2 linked regions of the Homo sapiens genome follow. The protein of the gene in region 2 purifies or fractionates together with the protein of the main gene of each other region. This does not show direct contact. Each region holds a gene or a part of one and is shown on either strand. Other genes may lie near its edges. The genes, in order: LYRM7 and RAB40A.

What was found.
Region 1: the proteins of RAB40A (region 2) and LYRM7 purify together in Homo sapiens (affinity purification with mass spectrometry, with the first as the bait; one large-scale study listed by BioGRID). This does not show direct contact.

The regions. Positions count from the first base shown.
Region 1 is NC_000005.10:131,173,623-131,177,445, reverse strand, and holds part of LYRM7 (complex III assembly factor LYRM7), read right to left. Parts: intron 1-3,823.
Region 2 is NC_000023.11:103,498,630-103,502,812, reverse strand, and holds the end of RAB40A (ras-related protein Rab-40A), read left to right. Parts: exon of another isoform or gene 1-54; intron 55-1,910; exon of another isoform or gene 1,911-1,986; 5' UTR 1,987-2,056; coding exon 2,057-2,890; 3' UTR 2,891-3,683; downstream 3,684-4,183.

The sequences.
Region 1 (3,823 bases), on a different chromosome or scaffold from region 2:
AAAGTCTCTTATCTGTCATACACACTTTATTGGAAAGCTACAGAAGAATATCCTCCACCAAAATAAGGAAATGAATCACAAAAGGAAAAGACATGGGAACCCAGGAGACAGGTAGTCTAACATGGGAGAGGCAAAGACCATGGGGAAGGACAAATGCTAGTCAACATTTGTGCAGCCAGACTAGAAAGCAACTAGGCAGGACTATAGCAAAAGACTGAATTGCTCCAGGAAAGTTATTGCAAGGAAAAATGAAACTGGTAGACTGGTTTTGCCTAGAATTTGGGAACAGATATCTAGGATATCTATTAAAGGATATTTTTAAAAAGTAATAATTTTTAAAAGGCAGTTATTAATTTAAAGATGAAGAAATGGGAAAAAAGACAATCATATAATGTACTTAAAGGGCTCAGCTGTGGGTAATTTTTATAGCAATAATAACATCAAAGATGTTAAAGTACTAGGTGCTAGTAGAACTGTGAGGGCAGCTGTTTGCTTTATAGGACACAAATGAGAAAATGTGGTGTATATATACATCATAGAATACTAAAAAAGAATGAAATCATGTCCTTTGCAGCAGCTGCTGGAGACCATTATCCTAAATGAAATAACTCAGAAACAGAAAATCAAATACTGCATATTTTGACTTATAAGTAGGTGCTAAGCAAAGGGTACGCCTTTGTGGATAGAACGCCAAAAGGGAGACGCCAAAAGGGAGGAGGATAGGAAGGGGTTGAGGGTGGAAAAATTACCTATTGGGTACAATATTCATTATTTGGGTGATGGGTTCACTAGAAGCCCAAACCTCACCATTATGTAATTTACCCATGTAATAAACCTGCATATGTACTCTCTGAATCTAAAATAAAATTAAGAAAAATAAAAAGTCAAAGAATTTGAATAGATATTTCTTCCAAAAAAAAAAAAACCCATAAATGGCCAATAAGCCATAAAAAGATGTTCAATGTCATGTGCCATCTGGAAACACAAATCTAAACCTCAATGAGATACCATTTCATCCCAGTAGAATGGCTACTGTAAAAAAGACAGTCAATAAAAAGAGTTGACAAGGACATGGAAAAATAGGAACTCTTATACATTGTTTGGCATTTAAAATGGTACAGTTGCTTTGGGAAACAGTTTGGCAGTTGCTAAAAAAAGTTAAACCTACAGTTATCTTATGACCCAGAAATTCTACTACTAGGTATATACTCAAGACAAATGAAAACATGTTCACACAAAAACATGTATGCTAATGTTCATGGTAGTATTATTCATAATAGTGAAAAAGTAGAAATAACCTAAATGTCCATGAACTCATGAACGGGGAAGTAAAATGTGAAATATCCTTATTAATAAGAGCTTAATTAGCTCTTAATAAGCTAACGCAGGCTGATGCAGTGGCTCACGCCTGTAATCTCAGCCCTTTGGGAAGCTGAGGTGGGTGGATCGCTTGAGCACAGGAGTTCAAGACCAGCCTGGCCAACATGGTGAAACCCTGTCTCTACTAAAAAATACAAAAAATTAGCTGGTGTGGTGGTGGGCACCTGTAATCCCAGCTACTTGGGAGGTTGAGGCAGGAGAATTGCTTGAACCTGGGAGGTGGAGGTTGCAGTGAGCCGAGATGGTGCCACTGCACTCCAGCCTGGGTGACATCGAGATTCCATCTCAAACAAAACAAAACAAAACAAAACAAAACCAGCCTGGGCAACATGGCCAAACCCTGTATCTACAAAAAATAAAAAAATTAGCCAGGCGTGGTGGAGGGTGCTTGTAGTCCTAGCTACTCGGGAGGCTGAGGTGGGAGGATCTCTTGAGCTTGGGAGGCAGAGGTTGCGGCGAGCCAAGATGACACCACTGCACTGCAGGCTGGGTGACAGAGTGAGACCCTGTCTCAAAACAAAACAAAACAAAACAAAACAAACAAACACACCCAAAAAAGGCCGAGCGTGGTTGCTCATGTTGCTCATGCCTGTAATCCTAGCACTTTGGGAGGTCAAGGCAGGCAGATCACCTGAGGTCAGGAGTTTGAGACCAGCCTGACCAACATGGAGAAACCCCATCTCTACTAAAAATACAAAATTAGCCGGGCATGGTGGTGCATGCCTGCAATCCCAGCTACTCGGGAGGCTGAGGCAGGGGAATTGCTTGAACCTGGGAGGCAGGGGTTGTGGTGAGCCGAGATTGCGCCACTGCACTCTGCCCTGGCCAACAATAGCGAAACTCCATCACCAAAAAAAAAAAAAAAAAAGAGATTGAAGCTGGTGACTTTGAGTTGAAGCCAATAATTTGTCATTCCAAAATCCTAGGACCCTTAAGAATTATGCTAAGTCTACTCTACCTGTGCTCTACAAATCAACAAAGTGCATCTGTTTAAAGCATGGTTCGCGGATATTTTAAGCCCACTGTTGAGATCTGCTCAGAAAAAAAAAGATTCCTTTCAAAATATTACTGCTCACTGACAACACACCTCATCACCCAAGAGCTCTGATGGAGATGTAAAAGGAAATTAATATTGTTTTCATGACTGCCAATACAACATCCATTTTGCAGCCCCGCAGGTCAAGGCCAAGTAGTAATTTTGGCTTTTAAGTCCTTTTTTTTTGAGACAGGGCCTTGTTCTGTCACCCAGGCTCGAGTGCAGTGGTACGATCATGGCTTACTGAAGTCTCGATCTTCTGGGCTCAAGCGATCCTCCCACCTCAGCCTCCAAAGTTGCTGGGAGCACAGGCGCATGCCACACATTGAGCTAATTTTTGTACTTTTTGTAGAGACAGGTTTTGCCATGTTGCCCAGGCTGGTCTTGAACTCCTGACTCAAGCAATCTGCCCACCTCAGCCTCCCATAGTGCTGGGATTAGAGGTGTGAGCCAGACTTCTAAGTCTTATTTAAAAGACTCATAAGGCTATAGCTGCCATAGACAGTGATTCCTCTGATGAATTTAGGCAAAGTAAATTGAAAACCTCCTGGGAAGGATTCACCATTCCAGATGCCATTCAGAGAATTCAAGAGAGGAGGCCAAAATAGCAACAATAACAGGCATTTGGAAGAAACTTATTTGAACACTCATGGATGACTTCGAGGGGTTCAAGACTTCAGTGGAGGAATTAACTGCAGATACGTGGAAAGTGCAAGTGAAACTAGGATAAGAAGTGGAGCCTTAAGATGTGACTGAATTGCTGCAATCTCGATAAAACTTAAATGCATGAGGAGTTGCTTCTCATGAATGAGCAAAGAAAGTGGATTCTTGAGTTTATGAAGATCATCACTCACATCACTTCACCCCTGGTGAAGATGCTGTAAACATTGTTGAAATAACAACAAAGGATTTAGAATATTATATGAACTCAGTTGATAAAGTAGTGGCTGGGGTTGAGAGGATTGAATCCAATTTGAAAGATGCTCTACTGTGGGTAAAATGCTATCAAACAGCATTGCATGCTACAGATAAATCTTTTGTGTGTGAAAGAGTCAATCAATGTGGTCAACTTTACTGTAGTCCTATTTTAAGAAATTGTCACAGTCATCTTAACCTTTAGCAACCACCAATCTGATCAATTAGCAGCCATCAACATCGAGGCAAGATCTTTCATCAGCAAAAAGATTACAACTTTCTGAAAGCTCAAATAATTGTTAGCATTTTATAGCAAAAAAGTATTTTTTTATTTAAGGTATGTACTTCCTTATTTTTTATTTTTTGAGATGGAGTTTTGCTCTTGTTGCCCAGGCTGGAGTGCAATGGTGCGATCTCGGCTCACTGCAGCCTCTGCCTCCTGGGTTCAAGGGATTCTGCTGCCTCAGCCTCCTGAGTAGCGTAGCTGGGATT
Region 2 (4,183 bases):
TCTATCTCACAGATAATCAAGCTCAGGCTTTCAGAGCCTAAGTCACCTTCCCAGGTAAGTGGCAGGATTGGAATGAGGTTTCATCCCTCACCCTCCCTAAAGGACCCTGAGCACCCCCTTTTAGAAGATGGGCTTCCAGGGCTTGAGAAATGTCAGATTCCACTCCCCTGCTATTGTGGCCCCATGGGTCCCCCACTCCACAACCCCTCTGGGTGATGAGGAAGACAGAAGTGAAATCCTGCACTTTATGCCAAGAGACTGGGTGTGGGACCGTATGAGTTGGCTGATCCCTTAAGTGGTGAGTGGGCTCAGGCAGAAGCTTAGGTGTTGGCCTTGGGACAGGTGAGCTGAAGAGAAGGAAAGTAACCTGCACTGAACTACTTTAGGCAAATGCACTCTATATTTCATCTCCTTTATCCTAACGGCTGTTCAAGGTACCGATGATTATGATCATTATTCCAATCAGGGTGCTGTCTTTAAGGGAGTTTGTGTAAATCAGGGAGAGAACTTTATTATCTCCTTATTGTCAGCTAAATCTGGAATTAATCTAAAGGTTTTTTTTTTCTCTATTTGCCCTGAAGCCCACAGAGAAATAGAAATGTTTTTCTTATCCTTTATTCACGTTTGTTCTGTATTGATGAGTATTTAGAATGTTTCTCATTTTTTCCTTTTTAAAAAGATTTCAGCAATGCTATTTCAAATAACCACTTACCTGGCTATTTTGGACATGTGAAAATTTTTTCCTCCATTACATTTGTAAACATCTATCCCTTGGGGCTTGATTTCAATAATTTAAACTCCCTTATATGTGTATGAGCATTCTCATTTCTTTAACCATCTTTGTACCTGTTGTAGTTACAATATTTAAGTGTATTTATAACTGATAAGTGTGTTTCCATTTCCTTGATGTATTTGGTCCCTCATCCTGCCCCCATACACAGACACACACAGAGCCTTTTTCTTTTGCATCTTTTTCTTTTGCAAATTAAAAAAAAATTCTTTTTCGGTTTTTTTCTACATTTAAATTTTGTCAGATGATAGGTGATAAAAGGATATTTAGATGGTTTCATTAGCATTCTTTAATGTATTAGTGAGCTAGAATGCATTTTCTTGTGATTACTGGCCATTTGCGTTTCTTCACCTGTGAACCATATACATATTTTTTCAGTTTTGTTATTTTGTTATAGGAGCTGTACATGTGTTAAACCTAAAACCCTTCACTGATGGATGCATGCATTATTTCAACACATCTTTGTTGGGTGAATATTATTTATGAGACACTCTAGCAAAATCCATGTCCTAGATATCTCTTCTGAGATCTTGGCTCTTATATTTATGGGAGATGTCCCCCTGCAGCAAGAAAAGTATTAGTGCCCATGTAAACATGCGTGGCTTGTCAAGGATCACATGCACAGACAGTTCACACTTACTCCTAAACCCGGCATGGCCACAGAGTAGAAAGGGTGTGTAGTGCGTTATATGAGGAGAGCACTGGCTCAGGATTGTGATTTCTGTGATCTCTATATTAATGGCAATGTTTTAAAAAATTACATAACATTTCTGAGTTTGCCTTTTCTCATTTGTAAAATGGAAACAATTATAGCTACCAAAGACAACTGTTCTGAAAGCAAAAGAACAAAATATTTTAAGCGTCATACACAGCATAGGGTACGTACAGTACTCAACACATCTTAGTCCCTTTCCTATCCCATACCCGTCCTTCCTTTAAAGGAGATTCCTTTGACATAATCCAAAAGGCATGGTTCCATAACGATCACATGAAAGTTTTAAGGGAAATGTATAGGTTTCCATGATGAATTAACTGCTGTGTCACTACTCTGTGCTGGGTAAGAAAAAGGAAAACAATCGCTGAATCAGTTTCCTAGGGTTTGTAAAAGAAATCCATCAAAGCCACCACCTCATTTCGCTTTATTTCACAGACTTCCCCATCTCATTTTTTATGTTCTATGCTAATTTCTCAAGAAGAACAGGCCCGGCACCACCTCTGCGCACAACCCCGCGGGCCTGGCTCAGGCGGGAGTGCGGGGCCAGCACCATGAGCGCCCCGGGCAGCCCCGACCAGGCCTATGACTTCCTGCTCAAGTTCCTGCTGGTGGGCGACAGGGACGTAGGCAAGAGTGAGATCCTGGAGAGCCTGCAGGATGGTGCAGCTGAGTCCCCGTACAGCCATCTCGGGGGGATCGACTACAAGACGACCACCATCCTGCTGGACGGCCAGCGGGTGAAGCTGAAGCTCTGGGATACGTCGGGGCAGGGAAGATTTTGTACCATATTCCGCTCCTACTCTCGTGGTGCACAAGGAGTGATCCTGGTCTACGACATTGCAAACCGCTGGTCTTTCGAGGGTATGGATCGATGGATTAAGAAGATTGAGGAACATGCCCCTGGTGTCCCTAAAATCCTGGTGGGGAATCGCCTACATCTGGCATTCAAGAGGCAGGTGCCCAGGGAGCAGGCCCAGGCCTACGCCGAGCGCCTGGGTGTGACCTTCTTTGAGGTCAGCCCTCTGTGCAATTTCAACATCATAGAGTCTTTCACGGAGCTGGCCAGGATAGTGCTGCTGCGGCACAGGATGAATTGGCTCGGGAGGCCGAGCAAGGTACTGAGCTTGCAAGACCTCTGCTGCCGCACCATCGTGTCCTGCACACCTGTGCATCTGGTGGACAAGCTCCCGCTCCCCAGTACCTTAAGAAGCCACCTCAAGTCCTTCTCCATGGCTAAGGGCCTGAATGCCAGGATGATGCGAGGCCTCTCCTACTCCCTCACCACCAGCTCCACTCACAAGAGCAGCCTCTGCAAAGTGGAGATCGTCTGCCCACCCCAGAGCCCACCCAAAAACTGCACCAGAAACAGCTGCAAAATTTCTTAAGGAAGGCACCAAAAGGAAACAAGCTGGAATCGCTCCAGGAAAAACTCTGGTTACACCTGGAAGATGGAAGTCGCATTGTAGATTCAAGAAATTAGTTTTCAGTTTCTCACGGGAACCATGCTGCTTGGGAATGTGTGTGATGCCTTCTGTCAATAAAAACACATTACACAGTTTGACTTTGAATTTCTATTTGGATGTGCATGAAGCTCTTGTTTTAAACGTGTGTTTATAAAGGGGAAATTAGTACTTTGCTCAACTCTTGATAACGTGAAATTTTGAATGTTACTTATATCATAATCACGCTGCAACTTTTTCCTTAAAATAACCGCCTTTGTTAGAATGGTGATATGGCAATGATGAGTATAAATTCAAGGAAATTTGAGAAGCAATGATAGTGAGATAATTCAGTCATCGATAGTACAAGAGGGGCCTTTTTGTAAACCTCCTTTTTAATGTCAAAGCACCAATTTATAAAACACTGCAGATGCATATAGAGATTGTATATAACAGATCTGTCCAGCTTGTGCATGAAATGGATTTGATAAAGTTTTTGCTATGTTATTTACTACATTTGGGGATTAATACGTGATTTATATGTATGTTTTTCTGTAAATCTACTTTTTTTGTACGAGATGTTCTACAAGATATGAAGCTAAGGGAGGAAAACACCAAAGATATCTCTAGTTATGTTGAACATAGCCAATATGGTTTCAATGGATCAATAAGAAAAAACCATTTCAGTAAGGAATGAAATACGTACTTATTTGAGAAAATGTTTCTTAACAGTAAAAAAGTATATATTTTTCTCTTTGGTAAAACGAAAAGAGAGGAAAAATATGTATAGTGTAACCCCGCAAGATGAGGCTTTGCAGAAAAACAATGCAATAGAACATGGCGGGGCAGGCCCATTATAAGGCCTTAGGTGAGTCATTTCCCCTGTGCTGGCCAGTTTTGGTTAACACCTCTCAGATCAATATAGAGGTTAATGAGATCACATCTGGGAAAGCACTTCTGAGACCTTAGATGGGAAAGAAGGAGAAGTGGTTTCCACGTAGTTACTTTCCAATTTACACTGTTGATTATTATAATAATTGATATTGGATGAACTGAGTAAATATAAGTCCTTGTACTCTTTTGTAATTGAATGACCATTTATTTGTGCATTGTCATAGGGTGATTGTAACAAAGTCCCGCAGAAGGGCAGTATCTCTGGCCTCACGGAGCTGTGGGGACTCACCCTTCCTGAACGCTGGTACTTTTCTATCTCATGAATTTCCCACAACATTCCTGGGA